Linked DNA regions of Homo sapiens. The protein of the gene in region 1 purifies or fractionates together with the protein of each later gene. This does not show direct contact. Each region holds a gene or a part of one and is shown in the gene's direction. Other genes may lie near its edges.

Region 1 (4,139 bases):
GAGACAATTGGGGCAATCCGAATATGGGCTGTTTATTAGATCATTTCATAACAAGGTTAAATTTCCTGACTGATTGTGGTTTTGTTGGAAAATTTCCATGTTTATGTTAGAAAACAAAAGCTAAAGTATCTAAGAGTAAAGTATCATGATGTCTGCAACTAAATCTATTCAATCCAAAACTAAAAAAATTTATGTATGTATATATTTGTACATACGTACAGAAAGAGTGTGTGTACAAAGACGGCAATTGACAATTGGTAAATCTAGGTGAACTGTATATGAGTGCTTATTATACTATTGTAAATTTTTTATTTCCTGGAGCCTTGAAATTTTTCTAAGTAAAAACAGTAAAGGAAAATAGACAATAGTGAAAGACAAAAATGAAAAAAGTGAAGGCAACTGAAGTTAGAGGACAGAACGGAGGGGGATGGTAAGGAGAAGAGACAGGGTAAATTAATCAGAGAAATATTTCTGATTCATACTCACATTGGCCCACACCCAGGTGTGGTGTGCACCCAGTGCAGTGGCGTGATCTTGGCTCACTGCAACCTCCACCTCCTAGATTCAAGTGATTCTAATGCCTCAGCCTCCCGCGTAGCTGGGATTACAGCACACTCCACCACACCTGGCTAATTTTTCTATTTTCAGTAGAGACAGGGTTTCACCCTGTTGGTCAGGCTGGTCTCGAACTCCTGACCTCAGGTGATCCACCCACCTCAGTCTCCCAAAGTGCTGGGATTACAGGTGTGAGCCACCGCACCCAGCCTCCCACACCCTCTTTTTTTATAACCCTCTACTCCAATAGGAGCTCCATTGTCTCTGCATTCTTTTCACCTTCCTGGCCATGCCTTTTCTAGTTCTTTCTCTACCCACTCCTTATACATGGTGTTTCTCAAAGTTTGGTAATCAGCTCATAGATCTTTTCACTCCACATATTTCTCTGGGTAATTTCACTCATTTCTAGTGTTGTTATTTTCTCAAGCTACCTATACACTTATGAGTGCAGTATTTCTCTAGTGTCTTTCCCCTGAACTTCTGACTTTGAACATAGAACATAAGCAGTTAGATGTATTTAGATACCCTACTGTCGCTCCTATAATCAGGTCCTCATCCCCTAGACAGTTGCAGTAGGTTTGTAAGTGGTCTCTTTGTCTTCAGTCATGGTCCCATAAATCCAATTTCCACGATGCTGCCAAACCATTCTTTCTAAAGAAGAAATACGAGCATGACAATTATCTGCTTAAAATCCATTATTGTTTCTGATGTCTTGGTCCTTATCCACCCTCCAGCTTCATCACTCATTGCCCCCTGACAAAACTTTACGTTGCAGGATATGCTTTAGTCACACTGAGTCTTGTCTGAATCCCCTGACATACCTTTCTCTGAAATGTTTCCATGTTATTCCCTCTGATGGGATGAGTCCTCCCTAGGCCCACCTTAACCTAGCCCCTTCATCAAAGCTCAGCTTAGGCAAAACCTTTTCCAAAAACCTCAACCCTTATGGGAGAATTATGTACCCTTGCTTTATTTCTCCATTAATATCATATACATATCCCATCATAACCCATACACTATTGTATACCTGTTTACTTTCTGCTTACCCATCTCTCCCCACTGTAAACTCTTGGAGGGCAGGAATGTGTCTTATTCATTTTCATAGCAAGTTATCACTATATGTTGTTGAATTAAACTTGTATTTTAAAAAATCTGATATAGTAATCTCAAGCAGCAAAAAAAAAAGAATCAAAGAATAATAATGATAATAATGATAAAACTTATTGCCTGCCAGGCACTGTAAATACTTTACATGATTTACTCATGTACTCCTCAAAACTCTGAAGTAAGTTCCTATTAATATTATTATTTCACAGGGGAGGAAACTGACACAGAAAGGCTAAGAATCTCTTGAAGGTCATAAATAAGTTATGACAGTATAGTAGAGCCATGATTTGAACCTATGCAGTATAACTCCCTGGTCCTCATCCTTAACCCCTACAGTATACTTCCTCTTGTTGTTTGTTTGTTTGGTTGGTTGGTTTCGGTTTTGGTTTGGGGGTTTTTTCTTAGACTGAACCTCATTCCAATTTTTATATTTTTAGTAGAAATGGGGTTTCACTGTGTTTGCCAGTCTGGTCTCGAACTTGACCTCAAGTGATCCATCCACCCACCTTGGCCTCCCAAAGTGCTGGAATTACAGGCGTGAGCCACCATGCACGGCCTATAATATGACCTTTATTATTGTTTGATTTGTTATCAAGAGCTCCAGATGTACCAGTTTGCTGGTTCCTTAGCCTAGAAATCTTTTCTTAATGAAAAGAAGATGTAAGTAAAAATGAGAGTAATTTCTAGAGATCATAGAGTTATTTAGGATATTTATGTTGTTTTTTTCTTTTTTTTGGAAACAGTTTCTCGCTCTGTGTTCCAGGCTGGAGTACAGTGGCGCAGTCATGGGTCACTGCAGCCTCAAGCTCCTGTGCTCACGTGAGCCTCCCGCCTCACCCTTCAGAGTGGCTAGGACTATAGGTGAGCCACCACGCCAGGATTTTTTTTTTTTCTTTTTTTCATACAGTTGGGACTCTCACTGTGTTGCCCAGAGTGGTCTCAAACTCCTGGGCTAAAGGCATCCTCCCACCTCCACCTCAGCCTCCCAAAGTGCTGGGGATTACAGCACTTTGAACCACCGCCCTTTGCCTATATGTTTATGTTTCTAATGATTTTTCAGATTATTTGAGAAAGCAGTGTAAGAAAAAAACTAGTTTAAAAAATACATAGGCCAGGCATGGTGGCTCATGCCTATAATCCTAGTACTTTGGGAGGCCGAGGGAGGCGGATAACCTGAGGTCAGCAGTTCAAGACCAGCCAGGCCAACATGGCGAAACCCCATCTCTACTAAAAATACAAAAATTAGCTGGGCGTGGTAGTGTGTGCCTGTAGTCCCAGCTACTCGGGAGACTGAGGCAGGAGAATCGCTTGAACTCGGGAGGCAGAGGTTGCAGTGAACCGAGATCATGCCACTGCACTCCAGCCTGGCCAGGCAACAGAGCGAGACTCCGTCTCAAAAAAAAAAAAACAAAAACATAAAACAAAAAAAAAAACACACACACAAAACATAAGGGCCGAGTACAGTGGCTCACACCTGTAATTTCACCACTCTGGGAGGCCAAGGCCAGTAAATTGCTTGAGCTCAGGAGTTTGAGACCACCTAGGCAACATGGTGAAACCCTGTCTCAACTAAAAATAAAAAAACCAGCTGGGCATGGTGGTACGCCCTTGTAGTTCCAACTACTCAGGAGGCTGAGGCAGGAGGATTGCTTGAGTCCAGGAGGTCAAAGCTGCAGAGAGCTGAGATCACACCACTGCAATCCAGCGTGGGCAACAGAGCAAGAACCTGTCTCAAAACAAAAGGAAAAATGCTTTAAGGAATCACAAAAGAATGAGCTTCTATTCAGTGTTAACAATTAAAATCCCACCTAATCCAGCAAAAAGAATTTGTAGGTCTCATTATGCTTTTGGAAAGGGGATAAGTATACGTATTTTAAGCTAAAGGAAGACTGCTATATACTCTTTCAATTTGGGCAATTATCCTCTGGAAAGTACCTAATGCTTTTAATTAAGTAATGATACTAAAACAAACCTTAATTTTTTGTGTTCTTGTTTTGACTGAGGTAGAAATTTGCTATTCTCCACTTTCGCAAGAGCTGTGATTATTTTTGGATGGAACAACTAACTATCTAGGAATTATCTCAGACTGCATCTTTCTACCCTGACAGATTTTGCATGGTTCCTTAATCCTCTGCATGTGCCAATTACTGTATTTAATTAGAAGGAGATTAGATAGAAGCACTAATAACCCAAGTCAGACACACACACACACACACACACACACACACACACACAGAGAGAGAGAGAGAGAGAGAAAGAAATATGACTTAGTTCCTAGACATCTTTATCATTGAAAAATAATTCCCAAAATGACAGACATTGGCTTGTGTAGGACTCTAGAAATTTGTATGCATAGACACTGGAACAGCCAACAGGAAAGGACTAGAAAGAAATGGCCCTGTTTCAGAATGGTGGTACTCAAATTTTCCAGCTAATGGTACATACCAAAGTTTGAAAGTCAAATACAATACAAGCCT
Region 2 (4,139 bases), on another chromosome or scaffold:
CTCTTTAAGGAATTGGAATTCCAGTGTACCCAGGTCAAGTGATTTTGAAGACTCAGCACATCTCATGCAACCAGTCCACAATAAGCCTGTTAAACAAGGACCTAGGTATAATCTACATCAGATCCAGGGTCACTCAGCTCCTCGACATTTCCACACCCAGACCCAAAGTTTGCAACAATCAGTCAGGTACCTCTCTCTGTTTTCCCTTTTCTAGAATTGAGATAGAAATTAATACTATAGTTAATGAAAACACATTATGATACTGATGAGGAATTCTTCGTTTTTTTTTTTTTTGGAGACAGAGTCTCGCTCTGTCATCCAGGCTGGAGTACAATGGCGCGATCTCGGCTCACTGCAACCTCCACCTCCCAGGTTCAAGCAATTCTCCTGCCTCAGCCTCCTGAGTAGCTGGGACTACAGGCACCCGCCACCATGCCCAGCTAATTTTTTGTATTTTTAGTAGAGATGGGGTTTCACCATGTTAGACAGGATGGTCTTGATCTCCTGACCCTGTGATCTACCCGCCTCAGCCTCCCAAAGTGCTGGGATTATAGGCGTGAGCCACCGCGCCTGGCCGATAAGGAATTCTTGCTGTTCAGTTTGAACCAGGAGATATTATTCTGCTCTGTATTTTGCATTTAGCACTGGAAAATCAGTTACAGGACAGGGAATATGTGACTTTTCAGAGGCAATTCGGAAAGGGACTTAGAAATTTTGATTGATTTTAAACTTAAGCCAAGAGTTTGATGTGGCTATCAAAAAGGATCTTATATTCTTAGGCTACATTAATGTAGTATAGTTTTTAGAATAAGGAAGATTGTTATTTAAGGAGTTGATATGAATTATAAGAAAAATAATAAAATCCTAATAGAGAAATAGCAAAGGATCTGAACAGATAAAACGACAAAAGTATTTTCACTTGGAAAATGGGGAAGACCTCAGTATGGTTAAAGTGGTACATTAGTATGAGTTCTCCAGAATGATAGAACCAGTAGGATGGATGGATGGATGGATGGATGGATGGATGGATAGATGGATGGGTGGATGGGTGGGTGGATGGGAGGAGGAGCTTTTTTATTCGGGGTATCAGCTTATGCACTTGTGAAAGCTGAGAAGTTTCATAGTAGGCTGTCTGCAAACTGGAGAACCAGGGAAGCTGGTAGCATTCAGTCCAACTCAGAAAGCCTCAGAACCACGGAAGCCAGTGGAGTAACTCTCAATCCAAGGCTGAAGGCCTGGGAATCTGGTAAGGGTTGGAGGACACTGGTATGAGTCCTCAAGTCCAGAGGCCATGAAGCCTGGAGTTCTAATGTCCAAGAGTAGGAGAAGAAGGTAAGGTATTCCAGCTCCAGGAGAGAACACAATTTGCCTTTCCTCTGCCTTTTTGTTGTATCCAGGCCCCCAGCCTATTGGATGGTACCTACGCAAACTGAGGGTGGATCCTCCCACTCAGTCCACCCACTCACACACCAGTATCCTTTGGACACACCCTCACAGACACTCCCAGAAATAATACTTTACCAGCTATCTAGATATCTCTTAACCCAGTCAACTTGACACCTAAAATTAACTATCACAAATAGCAAGCTATTATTCTTGCCTATTAATTTAGCAACAGTTTTGTTTGCTTTTTTTTTGGTGACAGAGTCTCACCCTGTCGCCCAGACTGGAGTGCAGTGGTGCAGTCTTGGCTCACTGCAACCTCCACCTCCCAGGTTCAAGCAGTTCTCCTGCTTCAGCCTCCCGAGTAGCTGGGATTACAGGCACTGCCACCACGCCCAGCTAACTTTTGTATTTTAGTAGAGATGGGGGTTTCACCATGTTGGCCAGGCTGGTCTTGAACTCCTGACCTCAGGTGATCTGCCTGCCTCGGCCTCCCAAAGTGCTGGGATTACAGGCATGAACCACCTCGCCCAGCCAGTTTAGCAACAGTTTTTGATAAGCACTCCATTGTAGTGGTTGTCAGGCTGGACCTGGATTTGCATGTTGGCTTTGTTACTCACCTGCTTTGTGATCTTGGATAAGATACTTAGCCTATCTACATTTCATTTTTCCCATTAGTCAGATAGATATTTTAATAATACATACCCCATAGTGGTTGTTATTGACAGTTAACATGAATTTAAACAGTTTAGCACGTTGTAAACACTTTCAAAAATACATTGCCATTTTTAGGCCAGGTGCATTGGCTCACACCTGTAATCCCAGCACTTAGGGAGGCCAAGGTGGGAGGACTGCTTGGGCCCAGGAATTTGAGACCACCCTGGGCAACATGCTGGAATCCTGTTTTTATTAAAAAAAGAAAAAAGAAACTTTAAAAAAATTGACATTTTTAAAAGATGTAAACAAACATTTCAAAAAACATGTCACTTGCGGCATTGAAAATTGGTATAAGCCTTTTGAAGCACAATTTCAAGAGCCATAAAAATACTTTACCTAGTAATTTCATTCTGAGACTTAAGGAAATACTTCAAAGTACAGAAAAAGCTATATTTACTTAATCATTCAGCACATTTCTCAAACTCCCTTCCATGTGTCAGATGCTGGGCTAGCTCAGGATACAGTAGTATATGTTTTGCAGTGTTAATCCCAGCATTATTTGTGGTTGTGGAAAAACTTGTAGCTGCTATATTTCTAACAGTGGAGAATGTAGCTAAATAATTATATCCATACTATAACATTTTATAAAGCCATTGGAAGTGTTAGCTCATTTATGATAAGTGAAACTAATAGGCTGTGATTCAACAGTCAGAAAAAGATGCTGGGGAAAAGAACAAAAGGAAATACTAACTAATTGAATTATAGTAAGTGGGATTGAGGGCTCTGCAGTGGGGGGTTTTTCTTTTCTCATATTTCCAAAGTTTCTTTATTTTTTTTTGTAAGATGGAGTTTTGCTCTTGTTGCCCGGGCTGGAGTGTAATGGTGTGATCTCAGCTCACCGCAACCTCCACCTCCCGGTTTCAAATGATTCTCCTGCCTCAGCCTCCCCAGTAGCTGGGATTACAGGCTCCCACCACCACACCTGGCTAACTTTGTATTTTTAATAGAGATGGGGTTTCTCCATGTTAGTCAGGCTGGTCTTGAACTCCCGACTTCAGGTGATCCGCCCGCCTTGGCCTCCCAAAGTGCTGGGATTACAAGTGCGAGCCACCACGCCCAGCCCCAAATTTTCTTTTGTATAATTATATGAGATTTTCTGGTCTTGCTTTTGAAACAAGTTAATTTAAATCCTAATTTTTCAAATTTGTTGCATATACCATGCTTAAAGTTTTTCACACTTCATAATTAATTTATGTATGTTCGTTTATAAAGTGGAAGCAGATATCTGTTCTCAGTACTAACTAGCTTATTCTGTCTTATGTCAACCCTGCCAGACTTTGGGAGAGAAAGTATTTGATTAGAATAGTATGGGCATGCATTTATCTCTGTAGGGAAAGGTGGAAAGGCTTCTGGGAATCCACGGTGTGCCAGGGCATTGTAGGTAATTGAAATGTATTTTTTTAATTTAGCTTCATAACAGCTCGTGAAGGTGAAAAGTATTATTAGCCCCATTTTATAAAGAACTTAGGGAAATAACAATTAAGTATTTTATCTGCTTAGGTCACACAGGTAGGAAACAGTAGAATATATATTATTTTGTAAATTTATAAATTTAAAATATTTTATGAAAATATAAATTTAAAATAAATAAAAATTATTGTATTAATCCTAGTAATGGCTTATTACTTTTTGTTTTGCTTTAAGAAAATTTTCAGAGAATCCACATGTTTACCAGAGACACCATCTCCCTCCTCCTGGTCCCCCTGGAGAGGACTATTCACACAGGAGGTATTCTTGGAATGTGAAGCCCAATGCCAGTCGGGCAGCCCAGGATAGAAGAAGGTGGTATCCTTATAATTACTCCAGACTCTCCTATCCAGCCTGTTGGGAATGGACCCAGTGATACAAACCTGTCCTGGAATTCTACCTGGAGACCAGAGCTGGCCTGAAAATTACTGGTGTGACTTTTAATTAGTTCAGGTCTAATCAGGTTTCTTTATTGTTCCCTTATGTATTCAAGCTTAAGGAAAAATTGCATTGCTGTTTACCTCTTTGCTGATAAATTTGCAGTAATTACAGCATTGCAGGAAAAACAATCT
Region 3 (4,139 bases), on another chromosome or scaffold:
GGGACAGTTATCAGTCCAAGATCGGTATTAAATTTTTTAGTTTTATGAGTCATGAAAATTCAATATATATATCATTTCATATAGCATTTTATAGCTTGCACAGATGGCTTCTGTATGTTATATAATTTGATCCCTGTAACCTTATATAAATGTCATTTTCCCCATTTTATAATCAAAGGCACTAAGCTTAAGTGGTTGTGATTTCCTCAAGCCCATACAGCCTCTACTTTATAGAGCAGGGGCTTCAATCCAGATCTTTTGTTCTCAGATAATTTGTTTTTTTCTTAGACATTTGAAACTGCAATTAATTCTGTAAAAAATAACAAACTCATTCCTTTTATAATATTGCATATAAATTAATATTTTATAAATTGAATTAATTGGTTACCTGTTTTTTAGACTTATCCTTTCATCTTCTCCACAAAGCAAGAAATCTGCCTTTTAAGTTTAAGATTTGATAGTAATAGGAAAATTGCCTTCCCTCTACTTAGTTGATAAACCATCAAGGAACCATATTAATGAATTATACTACCTCCAGCATAAGTGTTTTAATTTCATCAGGATTCAACTGTTTCTTGAATATTTATAAATGAAACATGGGAAATATTATGGTTGCTGAAATGAATATTTGCCAACGCTTATATTTGCTATACCTAGCCCTAGTATATAGAAGTCATTCTTATATGTTTAATTATAATTATAATTGGTATATCTTTACTTGACCAGAGCATATGATCCTTAAGAATAAAATGAACTTGTCTCATGTCAGAGAGAAAATTATTAAAATACATAGACGTTCAGGATAGCTTACGGAAATATTACAGTAATAATTTTTACAAGTAGAAAATGTAACTTTTCAATAGCTGTTGTGGTGTTTCTTTATTTTTTTCCCCTCTATTGTTCCCTTCAAGGATGAATTACAAAGGCTGCTGGGGTTGCTAAGAGACCAAGATCCCCTCTCAGAGGAGCAGATGCAAGGACTGTGCATTGAACTGAATGATTTCATTGTTGCTCTATCCTCAGTCCAACCCTCTGCCAAAAGGGAAGGCTTTGTCACTGTCCCTAATGTGACATGGGCAGATATTGGTGCCCTGGAAGACATTAGAGAGGAGCTCACCATGGCAATATTGGTAGGTATATCAGCTGCCAAATATTATTGGCATGTCATGGATTAAAGACCAGAGATAAAGCTCCATGCATGTGTACTAGGTTCTGTGGCTAAACTGACTTGACTATAATCACTGTGTCTAACTTGACTTGAATGTAGCACTTCTTTCAAGCCCCCAACAATGGTTTTTCTTTTGTTTGAGATCCGATTTGTTTATTTTTTTAAATTGATGTATCATAGTTGTAAATATTTTTGGGATACATGTGATATTTTGATACATATATTAAATGTGTATTGATGAAGTCAGGGTAATTGGGATATTCATCACCTCTAATGTTTATGTTTTCTTTGTGTTGGGAACATTATACTTTTTTTCTTCTAGCTGTTTTGAAATATACTTTTTTCTTCTAGCTGTTTTGAAATATAATTTCCCTACCGTGCTATCAAATACCAGAACTTATTACTCCTATCTAACTATTTTTTTTACCCGTTAACCAACTTCTCTTCATTATACTCATCTCCACCTTCCCTTCCCAGCCTCTGGTAACCATCAATTTGCTCTCTGTCTCCATGAGATCCACTTTATTAGCTCCCACTATGAGTGAGAATGTGCAATATTTGCCTTTCTGTGCCTAGTTTATTTCACTAACATAATGACCTCTAGTTCCATCCATGTTGCTGCAAATGACAGGATTTCATTCATTTTTGTGGCTGAATAATATTCCATTGAGACCTATTTTATGCTGATCCTTTTGGTTGTGCTTCATTTCTGTAGCAGTGAGTTTAAACCACAAAAAATTATAGGTTTCAGTTAAGACCAAATTGTTTGACAAAGACTTTCTGAACTTGATCTTATGGATCAAGGCAATTTTAATGCACATAAAACTTTGGATTAATTTTTATTTACTTTACTTTTCTACTCATCATTCCATGGTTCATTAATGGAAATATGATCGATTTAGAGGTATGTACTACTGAAAGAGAAAATACACTGGGATTATAGTCAACAGATATCTCTGGCTTTTAACTATGCAAAAGTTACTGCTGCATCTGATTTCTTAGAGGAGACCATTGTCTAAACATTTTATAACCTAGAAATTTAAATGGTTTTCTAAAACATATTTGTTGAAATATTATATCATTATGTCTAAAATGTTCTTAGACATTATGTTCAAGTATAAATTCCTCAAGTGCAGGGACTTTTCTCTTTATCACCACAGAGCATGAACAGGTAAACCAGGTACTGTTCGTATCTTCAGGCCTCACAGTCATGTTGAAAATAAGCCTGAGAAGCTGGGCGCAGTGGCTCATGCCTGTAATCCCAGCACTTTGGGAGGCTGAGGCAGGTGGATCACCTGAGGTCAGGAGTTCAAGACCAGCCTGGCCAACATGGTGAAACCCCGACTCTACTAAAAATACAAAAATTAGCCAGACGTGGTGGCATGTGCCTGTAGTCCCAGCTACTCACGAGGCTAAGGTGGGAGGATTGCTTGAACCCAGGAGGCAGAAGTTGCAGTGAGCCAAGATAGCACCACTGCACTCTAGCTGGGTGACAGAGGGAGACTCAAAAAAAAAAAAAAACCATAAAATATGTATCTGGAAATAATTTGAACCTGCAGTATAAAATGGACATGTAATGGATCGCCGTTTGTATCATTATTTCCAGGCACCAGTACGCAACCCAGACCAGTTCAAAGCTCTTGGATTGGTGACTCCAGCTGGGGTCCTCCTTGCTGGTCCTCCTGGCTGTGGGAAGACTCTGCTGGCGAAGGTATCATATAAGTTCAATTGCATGTAATTTATTTCTTAGTATCAGATAGGATAATATGAACTTAACTTTAAATATTACAGTGAGGTAAGTCTTATGCATAATTTTTATCAGAAGTTTATTTTAGCAAAACTGACAACTTTCTTCATTAAAGTTTCCTACTTTTTTAAATTACAAAGGCACATGATTGAAAAATGTTTATATCAACCATAATCCTATCAATTTTAACATGCAATTATTATATTTTCTGTGTATTACATTTTAGCTTTTTAGTGAGTATTATTCCATAGTTTTAGTTTTTACTTGACTTAGTTTCCTGCTTTGGTATTGTTATTATTTATAACTTAAGTATTTTCCTCTATATTTCTTGTAATTATTTTCTAAAATTGTTTTTTCATAATAGAAAATAAAAATAAGCAAAAAGGAAAAGCATTGTGTGTAATTCTCTCACTGCCACCTACTACTATTATTTCATTTCATTGTCAATCCTTCAGATATTTTTCTATGCATACATATCAAAGTAATATCTAACTTTTAAGTTTTTACATGCATGTTTACAAATATAAGCTTTTTTTATTTTATTTTATTATTTTTGAGACGGAGTCTCATTCTGTCGCCCAGGCTGGAGTACAGTGGCATGATCTTGGCTCACTGCAACTTCCGCCTCCCGAGTTCAATCAATTCTCTTGCCTCAGCCTCCCGAGTAGCTGGGGTTACAGGCATACGCCACCACGCCCGGCTAATTTTTGTATTTTTAGTAGAGATGGGGTTTCACCATGTTGGTTAGGCTGGTCTCGAACTCCTGACCTCATGATCCGCCCATCTCGGCCTCCCAAAGTGCTGGGATTACAGGCGTGAGCCACCACCCCCAGCCACAAATATAAGCTTTTTTAAACATGTTTTTCTCACTTAGCTGTATTTCCTGAACATCTTCACGTCAGTATATATTGATACACATCAATATTTTTAATGCCTGCATAATATTCTACCATAAAGATAGATGTTCTATAATTTATGGAAATGATCCCATATTGAAACAACACTACTTTAAATGGCCTTGCACTTATATTTTTGTACCTTGACTAATAATTATATTAGAATGCATTTCTAAATAATTTTCCAGTCAAAGGAATGTATGTTTTTAAGGCTTTTGAGCCATATTATTAAAGTGCCTTCCTAAAGGTTTTCACCAGTTTTTACCTTTTTTATCAATAGGGTATGAGAATCAATTTTCCCACACCTTAAACTAGTGATGGCCATGAA
Region 4 (3,500 bases), on another chromosome or scaffold:
ACCAGCAATTTATGAGTTCACTTTTCCACATACCCATTATAGTAATATATGCTAGAACTATGTTCATTTTTGTCAGTCTAATGGGAATAAAATAATATCTCATTTATACTTTAATTTGCATTTCTCTACATTTGGAGCAGTTTTTCATACTCTTTTGGCCATCTGGATCTGTTCTTTTAATTGAATATTCGATTTTTCTGTTGAATTGTTCATCTTGTCAATTTGTAAGAAAATTTATATATTATAAAAATTAGCCCTTTGCCTGTCATCTGCATTATGAGTATTTATCTGGTATTTATCTGTTGAATGTGTTTATATTACCTTTTGCTAGAGAAAATATTTTTTAGTAGTCAGAAATGTTTGTTTTCTTTTTTAGAGACAGGGTTACCCAAGCTCTGTTAACCAAGCTGGAGTGCAGTGGCGTAATCACAGCTCACTGCAGCCTTGACCTCCTGGGCTCAAGTGATCCTTCTGCCTCAGCCTCCTGAGTAGCTGGGACTACAGGTGTGCACCACCATGCCTGGCTTTTTTTTTTTTTTTTTTTCACTATTGCCCAGGCTGGTCTCAAACTCCTGGGCTCAAGCAGTCCTACCACCTCAGCTTCCCAAAGTGTTGGGATTACAGGCATGAGCCACCACACTTGACCTAGTTTTATTTTATAGCTGCTGGTTTCCAGTCTTGGTTAGAAAGTTTTTCTTAGAAATATAGGGGATTACGGCCGGGCACGGTGGCTCACACCTGTAATCCCAGCACTTTGGGAGGCCGAGGCGGGCAGATCAGGAGGTCAAGAGATTGAGACCATCCTGGCTAACATGGTGAAATTCTGTCTCTACTAAAAATAGAAAAATTAGCTGGGTGTGGTGGCGTGCACCTGTAGTCCCAGCTACTTAGGAGGCTGAGGCAGGAGACTCACTTGAACCCGGGAGGCAGAGGTTGCAGTGAGCCAAGATCGTGCCACTGCCCTCCAGCCTGGTGATAGAGCAAGATTCCGTCTCAATAAAATAAAATAAAATAAAATAAAATAAAATATAAAATAAAATAAATATAGAGGATTACATGTATAATACAAGGATTGGGGCTTTTTTCCGACAAGAATATAATAAGTTTGTGATTTTTTAAAAATAATTTTTGTATGACTGTTACCTAGACCAATGTTAGGTGAATTTGGGTAGTGATGAGAGACATAGAGAATAATTTGAGAAATATTTAGGGATAGCATCTGCAGTAGAATTTGGAAATTTTACAGAGATGAGTTCTGTCTGCCCTTGTGCCATGCAGGTTTTCAAAAATAGGAGGTTTCATGTTAAAATTTTGATTTTGTCTTTTCTTGAAAGTCAGATCTGGCCATCCGGGGCCTGCATTCCCTACTGGCCCCGTTCGAAGATAAGCAGTTACCTGCTTCAGACAGGGCATGCACTTCCCAGTTTGTTCAGTCCCCACAAAGCCCTCTTTCTGCCCAGCATTGATCTGGGAGCCTGGAGCCACTTTTCTTGGAGGTTGCACTTTGTTTTCTTAGCGTTGTGAGGGATATGCATGCAGTATTCTTACACTAGTGACTCTCAAAAATGGACTGAACAGGTGTCTGAAAGGGCTGCAAGGATCAAGATACCTGTGAAGCATAGCTGCTGTAGGCATTAGCTTGTGCCTCGATCCATGGGACTTTGATGGACTCTAAGAAGCCCTTGTGAAAGTTACTGATGATCTCCTGATTTCAGTCCCTGTATTACTGGACCCCTCAGCAGCTTTTGATCCTGATACCTGATTTTGAGACTTTGCTGATTCTCCTTTCTCTCTTGAGGGTTTCTTGTTTTCCCTTCCTCCCCGGGTTGTGCTAGTAGCTGCTCTCAACTACTCACACTCCCTGGGGAGATTCCTACACTTCCTTGATTATAACCACTACCTGGGGACTCCCTAATACTAGGCTGTAACCTTGACTTTGGCCTGAGTTCTCAGCTTCTGACTCGTGGAGCTGGTTGCCTCTGGACCACAGGAATCTCAAACGCATCATATCCAAATCCAAATGTCATGGTCAGTCCCTCCAACCCCTCCTCCTCTTGTCTTACATCCTATCTCAGAGATAGTCCTAGAAGCCAGGCCATTGATTTGGGGATCCTAGACTCATCCCTCTTCCCAGCCTTCATTCCCCCTTCTGTCAGTCACCAAATTTCTGCTAATTTTACATTCTAAGTATTAGCGAATCTTGCCGCTCTTCTTCTGTATCTCTACCCACTGCCTTGCTCAGGCCTTTGTTATCTTTTAACTGGACAATTGCAAGGGCCTTCTTCTAACTGGTCTCCCTGCCTACAGTCTTGCCTCCAGCAAATCCATCCTCCAATCCTGATGCCAGAGTGATCTGAAATGCAAATATGATCTTGCCACTCCCCTGCTTAAAACCCACCAACCGCAGTGGTTCTGTAACCACAGTGTAGCCTCTGACGTGGGCTGAAAGTAAGTTGTTACTACTCCTACTACTACTGCTACTATTAGTACTACTATTTCTACTAATATAAATACTAACAATAGTAGCTAACATTTACTGAGCATTTTCTATTATGCTTTTGAATGATTTATTACCTTTTTAAAACAAATCATAGCCAATTCAATGTTTTCCAAATTGTACCAGTCTCATTTGCTTGGGGTGAAGGAGAGGGGCAGAGTTACAGGCAGCAGGCACCTGAAAAATACTCATAACCATAAATGATCTTATCACATACCCTAGTGAGTGACCATGATGATTTAGCCTGAAGAGTTAAATAGGAATTACCATAGTCCTCATAAACAAAGATTTGCTTTTAAGGGAGGGTGTCAGTCATCTAGATCTTGAATATGTCCCTGAAGTATGTGGCACGTGGGAATGTCCTCAGGCTCCTGGGTATCAGTAGAGCGGGGAAAACGACTGCAGACATGCAGAGTCAAGTCCAGGCTTGGCCTGTTGTGCAAAACTGTCCATGATCTGGTCCCTGCCCACCTCTGCTCCTCCTGCCACTCCCTTCCTTGTGCATTTCACTCTAGCACAATGAAACTGTATGTGATACTAATCATGGCTCACCCTTACTGAGGTCTCCTATGTGCCAAGCACTGTGCTAAGTGGTTCTCTGCCGTGTCAAAATCTCATGTAAACCTCACAGCAACCCTACGAGGTAAGTCTCGCTTTCCTCCAATTTTATAGAGGAGGAAAGCGAGGCTCTGAGAGGTGAGGTCAACTGAGCTGACCTGGCTAGAGTTGTCAAGTGGGCCGCCCCCCTCTGCCCCTCCCTGCACATGTTCTTGCGTACCTCTCACATCTGCTTACACTTCGCGCTCCCTCTTGTGCCCAGGTAATGCCCACTCATCCTCAGGACTCAGTTCTTATGCTGCCTCCTGGGAAGGCCTTCATGGACACCTCCTCTGCCCCCAGACTGGGCTCAGTGTCCCTCTGTGGCACTGAGCCCCTCTGTGGCCGATGAGCTGCCCTCCAAGCACCACGCTGGAATGTATATGTTCAGTCTGTGTGCTCCTCG
Region 5 (4,139 bases), on another chromosome or scaffold:
GGAAAAGGGTGTCATTTCCTTTCACTACGTCTTAAGTGAGACAATTATAGCAGAAAAAGAATTTCTAGGATTTAAACTGTTAAAAACAGTTTGAGTGAAATCCATAAGTGCAACAAAATTATTACATTAAATGAATATGTTATTTAAAAATTGATTGTTTAAGCTAGGTGTGGTGGTGCCCGCCTGTAGTCCCACCTACTTGGGAGGCTGGGATGTGAGGATCTGCTTAAGGTCAGGAGTTCCAGGCTGTGGTGTGTCATTGTACCTGTGAATACCCACTGCTCTCCAGACGGGGCAATATAACAAGACCCTGCCTCTAAAAATAAAAAGCAAATAAAAATTGACTGTTTATGTCTTATTTTGTGGGACATGTAATTATAGAGTATTTTATAAGTCTTTTGGTTTTTAAAGATTAATCCTTAGAGTTTATTAAGTTCAATAATCAAATTATCAATATAGAAAAGTCAAAATCCCAGGTTTGTTTTTTGTTTGTATCATTATTGTAAATAAATAGTTCAACTTTCTTTTGGCTTCACTAGAATTTATATATTGGCTTATGAGTCATCAAATGAAAATTTAGGAAGAATTATAGGTAGCATTATTTATACGTTTTCTCATCATATAAAACTTGCTGTAACTTTTGAATTACTTAAATCACTTTGAAATATTTTTTCCTTTTTGAAACAAAAAAGTGACTTTTCCAGGTATGTAAATTCTTAATTATTTAACCACTTATCCTTTTATGCTTTATTGTTTTTAGTCCTACCTCTTCTGGGAAGATACATTTTTCCTTAGCAGTGGCTTTATGTTTATAGAAAGCAATAATAACGGCCAGGCGCAGTGGCTCCTGCCTGTAATCCCAGCACTTTGGGAGGCTGAGGCAGGCGGATCACCTGAGGTCATGGGTTTGAGACCAGCCTGATCAACATGGAGAAACCCTGTCTCTACTAAAAATGCAAAATTAGTTGGGCACGGTGGCGCATGCCTGTAATCCCAGCTACTCGGGAGGCTGAGGCAGGAGAATCGCTTGAACCTGGGAGGTGGACGTTGCGGTGAGCTGAGATCACACCATTGCACTCCAGCCTGGGTGACAAGAGCAAAACTCCGTCTCAAAAAAAAAAAAAAAGCACTAATAGCTTTCTCTATATAAATAAATATTTATTAAGCATCCACTGCATACAAAGAACTAGCCTAGGCTCAGGGGGTGTACATATGAGCAAAAACTTTTTGGAGCTTAGAGTTGGCATTACATTCTAGATTAGTGGTATTTTTTTTTTCTGGGTTTGGTGACTCAAAGGAGAAAATACGTCTTACACTGAGCCATCTGAATATAAAAACCCATCACAGGTTATTCTTTTGATATGTTTGCTTTGGAATTTTTTCCCTATATTTCATGCATCTGAAAGCATGAGTGTTGCTCTTTTCTGGTTTCTCAGCAGTTTATAGCAAATGAAATGTCTGCCTGAAAAAAACTATGGCACAGCATCCTAATATTCCAACATAATACATCATTTAGTCTTCATTCCATATGCATATTTTTGTATATTGTTCAGCAAGTATTATGTAAGCCAATCATAGGTGAAATAGGCATTATTTTAAAAATATGTTTGATTTAAATATTAAGTAGATAAGGCTGGGCACAGTGGCTCACGCCAGTAATCCCAAAGCTTTGAGGCAGGTGGATTGCTTGAGCTCAGAAGTTCGAGACCATCCCGGACAACATGGTGAAACCCTGTGGCTACCAAAATTTACAAAAATTAGCCAGGCATGGTGTCACATGCCTGTAGTCCCAGCTACTTTGGAGGCTGAGGTAGGAGGATCACTTGATCCCAGGAGGCGGAGGTTGCAGTGAGCTGAGACCACACCACTGCACTCCAGCCTGGGCAACAGAGCAAGACCCTGTCTTAGCCACAAAAAAAAATTTTATCATAAGTGTGTCATTTACGGTATCTTAGTCTGCCGTACCCCTGGATTTTGAAGTCCTCACCATAATTTTTCCTTCTGTTATAATTGTCCATTTCATTTGAGAGGATATTTTTATAAAGTTTTCAAATTGTAAAAAAAAAACAAAATTTGCCCTCTTAATGATTTTTCCCTTTTATTTATTTTCAGATAGTCCCTGAAACAGAATAGGCTCAGAGAGGCTCGCTCCTTTTATTTTTAGTTGACATGTAATAGTTGTACATATTTATGGTGTACAAAATGATATTTTGGTACATGTATACAATTAGTAATGATCAAATGAGGGTAATTAGGATATACCTATCACCTCAAACATTCACCTTTCTTTGTGTTGAAAACATTCAAAATTCTTTCAGCCCTTTTTTTTTTTTTTTGACAGAATCTTATTCTGTCACCCTAGGCTAGAGTGCAGTGGTGCAGTCATAGGCTCAAGCAACTTTTGGGCTCAAGCAATTTTCCTGCTTTGGCCTCCCGTGTAGGTGGGACCACAGGTGCACACCACCTTGTCCAACTAATTTTTTCATTTGTTTATAGAGATGGAGTCTCACTTTGTTGCCCAGGCTGGCCTTGAACTCCTGGACTCCTCCTGCCTCACCCTCTCAAAGCACTGATATTACAGGGGGTGAGCCACTGTGCCAGGCTTCTTGTAGCTTTTTTAACATATACCATAAACTGTTGTTAACTATATACCTTGCGGTGCTATAGAACACTAGAAGTTGTTCCTTCTATCTATCTAGCTGTAATTTTGTATCTATTAATCAACCTCCTCCTATACTCCCCTCCTGTCACCCTGCCCATCTTCTAATAACCATAGCTCTTCTCTCTACTTGTATGATCTAAGTTTTTTTTTTTTAGCTCCCCCATATGAGTGAGGACATTTGGTATTTATCTTTCTGTCCTTGACTTACTTAGCATGATGTCCTCCAGGTTTATCATGTTGCTGCAAATGACAGGATTTCATTCTTTTTTATGGCTGAATAGTATTCCACTGTGCATATTTACCACATTTTTTCCATTCATCTGTTGATGAACATGTAGGTTGATTTCATTTCTTGGCTATTGTGAGTAGTGCTGCAGTAAACGTGGGGTGCAGGTATCTCTTTGATATAATTTCTTTTCTTTGGGTAGATACCCAGTAGTGGGATTGCTGGATCATATAGTAGTTATATTTTTAGTTTTTTGAGGCACTTCTATAGTGTTTTTCATCCTGGTGTACTAATTTACATTTCTACCAACAAATGGGAGGCAGAGGTTGCAGTGAGCCAAGATCACGCCATTGCACTCCAGCCTGGGCAACAAGAGCGAAACTCCGTCTCAAACAAACAAAAAAAAAGAATTAGCTTTCCTAGGAATGGCTGAATTCACCATAATGATAATGTTGGTGGGGAGTCCCCTCAGTTTTTTTCAGCCTGAGTCCTAACATCTCACAAGTTTAAGGCTTCTCTGTATGTTTGTTCATCCTTCGTGGGTTCTTTTGCATAAAATACCACACTTTACATACCTTGAGTCAGAACTGAAAATTACAGCAAATATGGCTCTCAATTGTATATTTAAAAATCTCTAAGATAAATTATTGTATTAGAAAAGCAAAGTGCAGAAAAGTATGTGTAATATGACACCTAGTGTGAGAAGGCGGAATTAGAATATTTGCCTCCGTCTAGGTGTAGTGGCTCACACCTGTAATCCAAGGACTTTGAGATGCCAAGGCAGGAGTATCCCTTCAGGCCAGGAGGTCAAGATCAGCTGAGACAACATGGGGAGACCTCCATCTCTTCAAAATATAAAAATAACCAGGTGCACGCCTGCCCTGCTACTTAGGTGGCTGAAGCAGAAGGACTGCTTGAGCCTGGGAGGTCAAGGTTACAGTGAGCTGTGGTCAATCCACTGCGCTTCAGCCTGGATGACAGAGCAAGGGCCTGTCTCAAAGTACCTAAATAAAAAAGAAAGCCGAGTGCGGTGGCTCACGCCTGTAATCCCAGCACTTTTGGGAGGCCGAGGCAGGCTTATCACAAGGTCAAGAGATAGAGACCATCCTGGCCAATATGGTGAAACCCCGTCTCTACTAAAAATACAAAAATTAGCTGGGCATGGTGGCGTGTGCCTGTAGTCGCACCTACTCCGGAGGCTGAGACAGGAGAATTGCTTGAACCTGGGAGTTGGGAGGTTGCAGTGAGCCA
Region 6 (4,139 bases), on another chromosome or scaffold:
CCATTCTAGAGCTACAAATTCCATTTTCCCATTCCTTCCTGGCCGCAGCTCTCTGGATGTTCCCCCATGCTCGTTCACTTTAACATGACCTCTTCCTAAGAAAAATGAGTGACAGCAGTTGCAGAGCCCAATGATAATTGTCTAATGCCAGAGTTAACAGCAGAGGTGCCTCTCTCTGCTCTCTTCATTTTTCTCTAATAACACATTCAAGTAGATTGCTATGAAGGGCTCAGATATAAAGCTAAAATTGAGAAGGGAAAACAGTGATTAGCAAAGGCACGAAGTATTAGGGAGTCAGGTATATTTTAAAGACATAACAAATACCATCATCTGCTGTGATGATCTTGTCTGGAAAAAATAGTGTGCCCGCATTTACGTGACTCCCTTTTTAATCCCGCATTAGAAAGGAGACAACTCAGTGATAACGCCACCTCTTCTGAAAGGAGGAAGTAGGTCTTTTGGGGAGGAACTCTGCAGGGTGGTGGAAGAGCATTTGCGTGAGGAGGGAGGGTCCTTGCATGAGCCCCACTTCACTGGCGTCGGCTCTGAAAACTCACTTGTGAGGGGCCTGGGCCTGGACTGCTGCTGCCTCGTGGGTGCACTGTAATCAACTTAAACAGACATCAGAATCTGGGTTATTACGTTGCAGTCATGCATTGTTCTTCCCAATTTCTGTTTGAGGAAAGGCCCTACATTGGCTGTATCTATACATGAACTGTTTCTTTGACTTAATGCAAAACAGCAACAACGACAACAACAAAACCCCTATTAACTAGTTGCAAAGTGCGCAGTGGGAAGAAGCAGACTGGAAAGTTTCTAGAATCCAAAAGGTCGACTCCTAAATATTTTTTGAGGAGGAAGCATGTGCATGTTTCGTGCCTGAGAACATGAGAGCCAGGCAGAGGGGCGTTGGGAGGGCTGAGGCACCACAGGGCAGATTGGAGAAGGCAGGCCGAGGCTCTCGGCAGCAAGGGCCAGCACGACAAATGGCTGCCCGCCTTCCTAGATCGAGCACTGCGGTGCTCGCCCTAGCAGTTGAATGGAGCAGACAGGGCAAGAGACAGGTTCCTGGGCCATTGCCACCTCTGTCTAGATGCTCAGAACTTTGCTTCTGCATTCTTTTGACTTCTTTGTATTTGTCAACTTCTTAACTTTTTTCTGCCTCCCCTTTAAATGTGTTTCTAATGAAAATCATCATTGGTTTATTAAAATGTAAATGCTTCATCAAAATGTGTATTTCTTAGATCAGGCATAAGACAGTTCCCTGAATTTATTTATTTATCCATCTCGTTTCATACTAAGGTGAGGTGATTCAGATCTGTTGATGGACCCATAAATAATCATAGTAGATTTGCTTTGTTCCTCAGAAGCAGCAGTTTCTTAGGAAGAGGAAGAAGGCCCTTTTAAACTGTAAATCACTCCCGTTCCCTCTCAGCTCCTGTTTGCTTAGGGTGTGTGGTTCCCCGACGTCGCCATGTGGACACAGCATATGAGCCACACTCTGGCTGGAATATCAGCACACGCATTTGAGAACACTGCCTTACTGTTCTGTGGCATATTTAGCTTTTTCTGTTCCTGACTGCAAACGGCATTACTCTTTTCTTTCTGCTTCAAGATTTGACTCCAAATTCTTGCATTTCTTTTATTTTTGTGTTTTTCCTCTTTTTTTCTCAAGAAAAAAGTGATGAATAGAAGCAAATCAGACCAAGAAAAAGATGGGACTGGGCTCTGTTTTCACCTTCCCTCGGGGTGCCAGGCACAAATGAGAGGCGAGTTCAATACCCATGCATTGCTCTCTCCTATGAAAAATAGATTTCCCATGAAGTCAGGGCACTCTCCCTCTGACTCCTGCCCTTTCAGAGCATGCTCTGCCTCCTCTGGTTGACTCTTTGCTGCTGTAAAAAGGCTTCACTCATCCATAGGGCTGTGAGTTGGCAGCAGAGAGAGGATGCTGAGGGGTGAGGGCTGGGGGTGTGCAGGGAGATGACACATTTCAGGTAAATCGCTGTCAGAGACGTGGCATTTTCATTCATAGCCTTGTCAGAGTAACCTTTGGGTGAAAGGGGGAGAATTGTCTTCTCCCACCTAAGAGGTTGCCATTCATGTTTTAATTTGCTGTTACATTTTCAAAAAAAAAAAAGAGCATACAACAAAATCATTTGTCTTCTTATGATCTGTTTCCCCCTCAGAACTCCTTCTTCTCTTTCTGTTTCTCTTTCTCCCTGGGAAGTATCCTTTCAGCAGCTCACGTTTCTTCCTTCATCTCTGACACGCAAGTCTCTCTTTGCTCCCTACATTCAAATGCTGTGGCCTTGCAGTTGATTGGATGAAGCGGAGGCTTTCCAGACTCCACTGCTAGGCAGGTCTGACTGTTGTGTTCTGGCTCCTTGTGGCTTCTGTTCCTGAGTGAAGCCCAAGCTCTTGTCTCAGTGCTTGGCACACAGCTCCGGCTTCGTTAGAGATCCTTTGGTCTTCACCCATCAGTAATTAAGAGATGGGGGAGTGAAGCTCCTCCAGGGTAGAAGAAGAAAGGCCAGTGCTGCTGGGACAGGGCTTTGTGCCCTCGTTACCCTCACAGGGGTGTTTACCCCACAGTGGAGGATGTTTGGCCACCCTTTTCTTCCTTTTTTTTTTTTTTTTCCTCTTCAGTATAAACTAAAGAGACCAAAATGCTTCTATTTCATCATCATCTGCTCAAATCAAGGGAGTGGATCAGTGAGTGGGCACACTTATTTGGTATTCAAGATTTATTAAGAAATAATGACATAATCTCTATTAAGGAAATTCTAAATGTAGCCTATTTTAAATTCATCAGAGAGGAAAGAAATTGTCAGGAATATCATCCTGTCCCTTTAATATCATAGAGGTCCCCTTCTCAATTCCTAAGGGTTTAGGAAAATATTTCCTTTCCTAGGAAGGTGTCACTTCTACTTCATGTCTAATTAGCTCAAGAATAGGCCAGTTTTGTGCATCAAGGTCTTGGGTGTTTTTGAAAGAGCAAAAAGTTACCTTGCTGTGCCCTTCCTTTTACAGCGTTTCTGAGATTAAGATGGAAGATATTTTGTGTGTTCTGACAAGAGATGATTGTTTTAAAGGGAAACGATGGGGAGCCCAGGTGAGTTTTGTTATTTATTGTGCTCGCTGCCAACAGATGTGACTCACTTGATTTGGGGTAGTAGAGACTTTGTGTATGGGTTACTTCCTCTGTCAAGCAATACATTTATTTTAAGAACCATGAACATTAGATGAGGCCAAATCTTGATTGTTTTTTTTTTTTCCTCGTCTTTGCTTCTGGATGCGTTTGCCACTCTCATCTAGCGAGTGGGCTACGGTCCATTCTGGAAGCCTGCCAGACAGCAGCAGGCTCCCCAGAAAGGAGGTCCAGGCCAGAATGAGTCTGGAGGCAGTGCCACACGCTCAGCCCCGGTGGTCCCTGTCCAGATTCTCAGCAAGGACGGCTGCCTAGACCTGCCTATCCCAGACAGCATGGAAGAAATAAGTATCTCTGTGTCTCCTTTCAGACACAGTTAGTTCATCCATTTTTTAATGTGTGTGTGCTATCCACAGAGGAAGAGTAAAGTTGAGATCATTAAGAAGAAAAATTTTTATTATCCATGCAGTTCCATATGGAGATTCTGAGCAGGTGCAGGCAGCCCTGGACACCCTTTCCTGCTCCTTCTCTTAAGGCTGCACCCGACTAGACCATTATTCCCTCACCCCACCCCACCCCCTTACTCAGTATTCCCGTGTGTGGGTGCAGTGTTGCTGTATGTAATTTTGTCTATGAGATATTAATCACTTGAATATTTTACATTTGTTTTTGTATGCCTGAGGATGAACTGGAAAATCAGGGCCAGATAGATCAAGCTTAAGAGTTTCTTTCATGCTTTAGCATGTGCCTGTATTTGGATCATTATTCTCCCTGAGCAGGGAGGGACCCCGTTTCACTGAGCCTGACTTAAATTCTCTTGTTTTAGAGAGCATCTAAGGAAATGTATGTAATACCAGGAGAGGAGATAGCCATAGCCTCTATTAGCAAAGTGTGTGTTCCCAACCTAGGACTGTGCTACACTCTTTATGTGCACGGTCCCATTTAATCTTATAGCAATCCGAGAAGTTGGTGATGGCCCCAATTTATA
Region 7 (4,139 bases), on another chromosome or scaffold:
GAAACCCAGAAGCAATACAGAGCAAAGAGAACAATAAGACATGTTTGCAAAATTATATTTTTAATCATCTCTTTTGGAAAGTGCATTTATATTTCTGTATTTTAATTCCAAGTGCACACACCCTGTATGTGAGTATTAACGTTAGTGGCTTGTGAAATTTATTCCAGTGTATCGCAGAACGTCCGCTCTTTGTTGGACACTAACAAGGCATATCCAACTTCTTTCACAAAGAGGCCAACTTCTGGTTTGAGGTCAGTGGATACCTGATATCCCCACTGCGAAGCCCTTTTGTGGATCCTGCACTCGAATGGAGTCTAATGGCTTCTCCATGGTACAAACACAGAGGGGAACAAGACAGATAAACCATCTTTTTCTTCCTTGTTTTCTTTTTTCTTTGTCTTTTTTTTTTAAAGCAGAGAAGACAGCCTGTAAATGACTAAATAAATGTTTCTTTTTTAAATATGAAAGTATATTACTTGGGAATCAGGCCAAGCCCAAGGAATCAGGGAAAACTTTTTGAAGAACTGATCTTCAAACCAAGCTCTGAAGGATGGCAGGAGGCAAGGAGGGTGGGGAGGCTGTGGAGAGAATTTCATGGAGAGCTGGGGGGGAAAGGTTATGGCACGTTTGAGGAAGCAAAACAAGCTGCTTTTGGCTTAAACGCAGAGTTGGAAAGACGAGTTCAGAGGTGAGGCTGTGGGGGACAGGGGCCTTATGGTGCAAGGCACTGTTGTTCTCTGTTAACTCTTTTTTTCTCTATCATAAAGGCAGTGGGACCAGACAGAGAGAATTCCAGTGAGCCACCTGTGTATCTAGAATAATCTGAAATTTGTAATCATGACTACAGGCTTGTCATTTGTCATACAATTTCATTTTGCTGTGATTTTTTCCGCTGAGGCTATGTTTAAAATGCAAAAATAGGCCAGGCACGGTGGCTGACGCCTGTAATCCCAGCACTTTGGGAGGCTGGAGTGGGCGGATCATGAGGTCAGGAGATCGAGACCATCCTGGCTAACACAGTGAAACCCCATCTCTACTGAAAATACAAAAACAAAATTAGCTGGGCGTGCTGGTGGGTGCCTGTAGTCCCAGCTATTCGGGAGGCTGAGGCGGGAAAATGGCATGAGCCCAGGAGGCGGAGCTTGCAGTGAGCCGAGATCGCGCCACTGCACTCCAGCCTGGGCGACAGAGTGAGACTCCGTCTCAAAAAAAAAGCAAAAATAAACCATTGTTGTCACATTTCCATATAGGAATAAAATGGAAGGAGAATCAAGCAGATTTGAAATCCACACTCCAGTTTCTGACAAGAAAAAGAAAAAGTGTTCTATACATAAGGAAAGACCTCAGAAACATTCCCACGAAATTTTCAGAGACTCCTCCCTGGTGAATGAACAGTCTCAAATAACTAGGAGGAAAAAGAGGAAAAAAGATTTCCAGCATCTCATTTCTTCTCCTTTGAAAAAATCCAGAATCTGTGATGAGACTGCAAATGCCACTTCCACACTCAAAAAGAGAAAAAAGAGAAGATATAGTGCTTTGGAGGTGGACGAGGAAGCAGGTGTTACAGTTGTCCTTGTGGATAAAGAAAATATTAACAACACACCAAAGCATTTTAGAAAGGATGTTGATGTTGTTTGTGTTGATATGAGCATAGAACAGAAGTTACCAAGAAAGCCTAAAACAGACAAATTTCAGGTACTTGCTAAGTCACATGCACATAAATCAGAAGCCCTGCACAGTAAAGTTAGGGAGAAAAAGAATAAAAAGCATCAGAGGAAAGCTGCATCCTGGGAGAGCCAGCGGGCAAGGGACACCCTGCCTCAGTCAGAATCCCACCAGGAGGAGTCCTGGCTTTCTGTGGGTCCAGGGGGTGAAATTACAGAACTACCAGCATCTGCTCATAAAAACAAGTCTAAGAAAAAAAAGAAAAAGTCCAGTAACCGGGAATATGAGACACTGGCCATGCCTGAAGGATCGCAAGCAGGCAGAGAGGCCGGGACTGATATGCAGGAATCCCAGCCTACTGTGGGCTTGGATGATGAAACTCCACAACTACTAGGACCTACTCACAAAAAAAAGTCTAAGAAAAAAAAGAAGAAAAAGTCCAATCACCAGGAATTTGAGGCATTGGCCATGCCTGAAGGATCACAAGTGGGCAGTGAGGTTGGGGCTGATATGCAGGAATCCCGGCCTGCTGTGGGCCTGCATGGTGAAACTGCAGGAATACCAGCACCTGCTTATAAAAACAAGTCTAAGAAAAAAAAGAAAAAGTCCAATCACCAGGAATTTGAGGCAGTGGCCATGCCTGAGAGCCTCGAGAGTGCATACCCTGAAGGATCACAGGTGGGCAGTGAGGTTGGGACTGTGGAAGGCAGTACAGCTCTTAAAGGGTTCAAGGAATCCAACAGTACAAAGAAGAAGTCTAAGAAAAGGAAGCTTACGTCTGTCAAAAGGGCACGAGTGTCTGGTGATGATTTTTCAGTGCCCAGTAAGAACTCTGAGAGCACACTCTTTGATTCAGTAGAAGGTGATGGCGCCATGATGGAAGAAGGTGTGAAATCTAGGCCCCGACAAAAGAAAACCCAGGCCTGTTTGGCAAGCAAGCACGTGCAAGAGGCGCCAAGGTAACGAGGGAGTGGTATTCCAGCTGCTGGTATATTTCTTTCGTATGGATTCTGCCGATACCTCTTTATTTAGCACAGACTTTTTTTTATTTTTAATTTTATTTTTATTTATTTATTTATTTATTTTTGAGGTGGAGATTTGCTCTTATTGTCCAGGCTGGAGTGCAATGGTGCAATCTCGGCTTACCGCACCCTCCACTTCCCGGGTTCAAGCGATTCCCCAGCCTCAGCCTCCTGAGTAGCTGAGATTACCGGCATGCACCATGCCTGGCTAATTTTGTATTTTTAGTAGAGACGACGTTTGTCCTTGTTAGTCAGGCTGGTCTCGAACTCCTGACCTCAGGTGATCCGCCTGCCTCAGCCTCCCAAAGTGCTGGGATTACAGGCGTGAACCACCGTGCCTACCCTTAGCACATACATATTAAATGGCAAAAATCATCAAGAGGTAGACCCTCATTGTACAGAATATCGTACATCTTTAATTGTGTAAACTTGGCAGGTAGTTTAATTTCTTCATGTGTGAAATAAGACAGATTCGATTTTCACTAAGAACTATTCCAGCCCTAGAAAATCTATGAGTAAATTTAAAAGCCCAAATTACCTTTGAAAAATATAAAAGCCCAAATTACCTTTGAAAAATAGTCTGAGCAAATAACCAGTGGAAATGGGGCTTAGGGCTGCACTTTTAGCTTCTAGGCTCCCTCTGAGATATATCCAAGTAATTCAAGTTCCAGTAAAAAGTTTGAAAATCACAGACTGAGTCAACTCCAAGATCTCATCTTGCTTTAATATTCTAGTAGCCTAAGTGAGAGCCATTTTAAGAAAAGTTTAAGGCCAGGCGTGGTGGCTCATGCCTGTAATCCCAGCACTTTGGGAGGCCAAGGTGGGTGAGTCACTTGAGGCCAGGAGTTCGAGACCAGCCTAGCCAACATGGCGAAACCCTGTCTCTACTAAAAATACAAAAGTTAGCCGGGCGTGGTGGCGCGTACCTGTAGTCCCAGCTACTCTGGAGGCTGAGGCAGGAGAATCGCTTGAACCGGGAGGCAGAAGTTGCAGTGAGCTGAGATCGCACCATTGCACTCCAGCCTGGCGACAGAGCAAGCCTCTGTCTCACGAAAAAAAAGAAGGAAAAATTTTAAAGTTATGAGGTCAAGTGATGTGTTAATGTTAGTCAACCCAATTTTCTAACCCCTTAGGTTAGAACCTGCAAATGAAGAACACAATGTGGAAACAGCTGAAGATTCCGAAATAAGATACTTATCTGCAGATTCAGGAGATGCCGATGATTCAGATGCGGATTTGGGTTCTGCCGTGAAACAGCTTCAGGAGTTCATTCCTAACATCAAGGACAGGGCCACCAGCACAATCAAGCGGATGTACCGGGACGACTTGGAACGGTTTAAGGAATTTAAAGCACAAGGTGAGCTTGTGGGGCCTTAGTGTTTGTTGAACTTCCTGTATGCAGAGCTAGCACCTAACTTTCTTTTATGGATGATTCAGATTTATAGATCGACA

Evidence for each region.
Region 2: the proteins of PRR11 (region 1) and DUSP11 purify together in Homo sapiens (affinity purification with mass spectrometry; 3 studies listed by BioGRID and IntAct, with this or other methods). This does not show direct contact.
Region 3: the proteins of PRR11 (region 1) and NVL purify together in Homo sapiens (affinity purification with mass spectrometry; 3 studies listed by BioGRID and IntAct, with this or other methods). This does not show direct contact.
Region 4: the proteins of PRR11 (region 1) and MOV10 purify together in Homo sapiens (affinity purification with mass spectrometry; 3 studies listed by BioGRID and IntAct, with this or other methods). This does not show direct contact.
Region 5: the proteins of PRR11 (region 1) and ZBTB11 purify together in Homo sapiens (affinity purification with mass spectrometry; 2 studies listed by BioGRID and IntAct, with this or other methods). This does not show direct contact.
Region 6: the proteins of PRR11 (region 1) and DDX31 purify together in Homo sapiens (affinity purification with mass spectrometry; 3 studies listed by BioGRID and IntAct, with this or other methods). This does not show direct contact.
Region 7: the proteins of PRR11 (region 1) and TTF1 purify together in Homo sapiens (affinity purification with mass spectrometry; 3 studies listed by BioGRID and IntAct, with this or other methods). This does not show direct contact.

What each region holds. Positions count from the first base shown.
Region 1 is NC_000017.11:59,158,354-59,162,492, forward strand, and holds part of PRR11 (proline-rich protein 11), read left to right. Parts: intron 1-2,410; exon of another isoform or gene 2,411-2,523; intron 2,524-4,139. UniProt on the Homo sapiens protein: Plays a critical role in cell cycle progression.
Region 2 is NC_000002.12:73,762,465-73,766,603, reverse strand, and holds part of DUSP11 (RNA/RNP complex-1-interacting phosphatase), read left to right. Parts: intron 1-9; coding exon 10-186; intron 187-3,744; coding exon 3,745-3,943; 3' UTR 3,944-4,139. UniProt on the Homo sapiens protein: Possesses RNA 5'-triphosphatase and diphosphatase activities, but displays a poor protein-tyrosine phosphatase activity. In addition, has phosphatase activity with ATP, ADP and O-methylfluorescein phosphate (in vitro). Binds to RNA.
Region 3 is NC_000001.11:224,284,766-224,288,904, reverse strand, and holds part of NVL (nuclear valosin-containing protein-like), read left to right. Parts: intron 1-911; coding exon 912-1,130; intron 1,131-2,774; coding exon 2,775-2,879; intron 2,880-4,139. UniProt on the Homo sapiens protein: Participates in the assembly of the telomerase holoenzyme and effecting of telomerase activity via its interaction with TERT. Involved in both early and late stages of the pre-rRNA processing pathways.
Region 4 is NC_000001.11:112,684,659-112,688,158, forward strand, and holds part of MOV10 (helicase MOV-10), read left to right. Parts: intron 1-2,307; exon of another isoform or gene 2,308-2,448; intron 2,449-3,500.
Region 5 is NC_000003.12:101,666,818-101,670,956, reverse strand, and holds part of ZBTB11 (zinc finger and BTB domain-containing protein 11), read left to right. Parts: intron 1-4,139. UniProt on the Homo sapiens protein: May be involved in transcriptional regulation.
Region 6 is NC_000009.12:132,624,640-132,628,778, reverse strand, and holds part of DDX31 (ATP-dependent DNA helicase DDX31), read left to right. Parts: intron 1-3,033; coding exon 3,034-3,115; intron 3,116-4,139. UniProt on the Homo sapiens protein: May have DNA helicase activity and RNA helicase activity. Probably have ssDNA and RNA dependent ATPase activity. Plays a role in ribosome biogenesis and TP53/p53 regulation through its interaction with NPM1.
Region 7 is NC_000009.12:132,399,940-132,404,078, reverse strand, and holds part of TTF1 (transcription termination factor 1), read left to right. Parts: intron 1-1,250; coding exon of another isoform or gene 1,251-1,257; coding exon 1,258-2,624; intron 2,625-3,820; coding exon 3,821-4,044; intron 4,045-4,139. UniProt on the Homo sapiens protein: Multifunctional nucleolar protein that terminates ribosomal gene transcription, mediates replication fork arrest and regulates RNA polymerase I transcription on chromatin.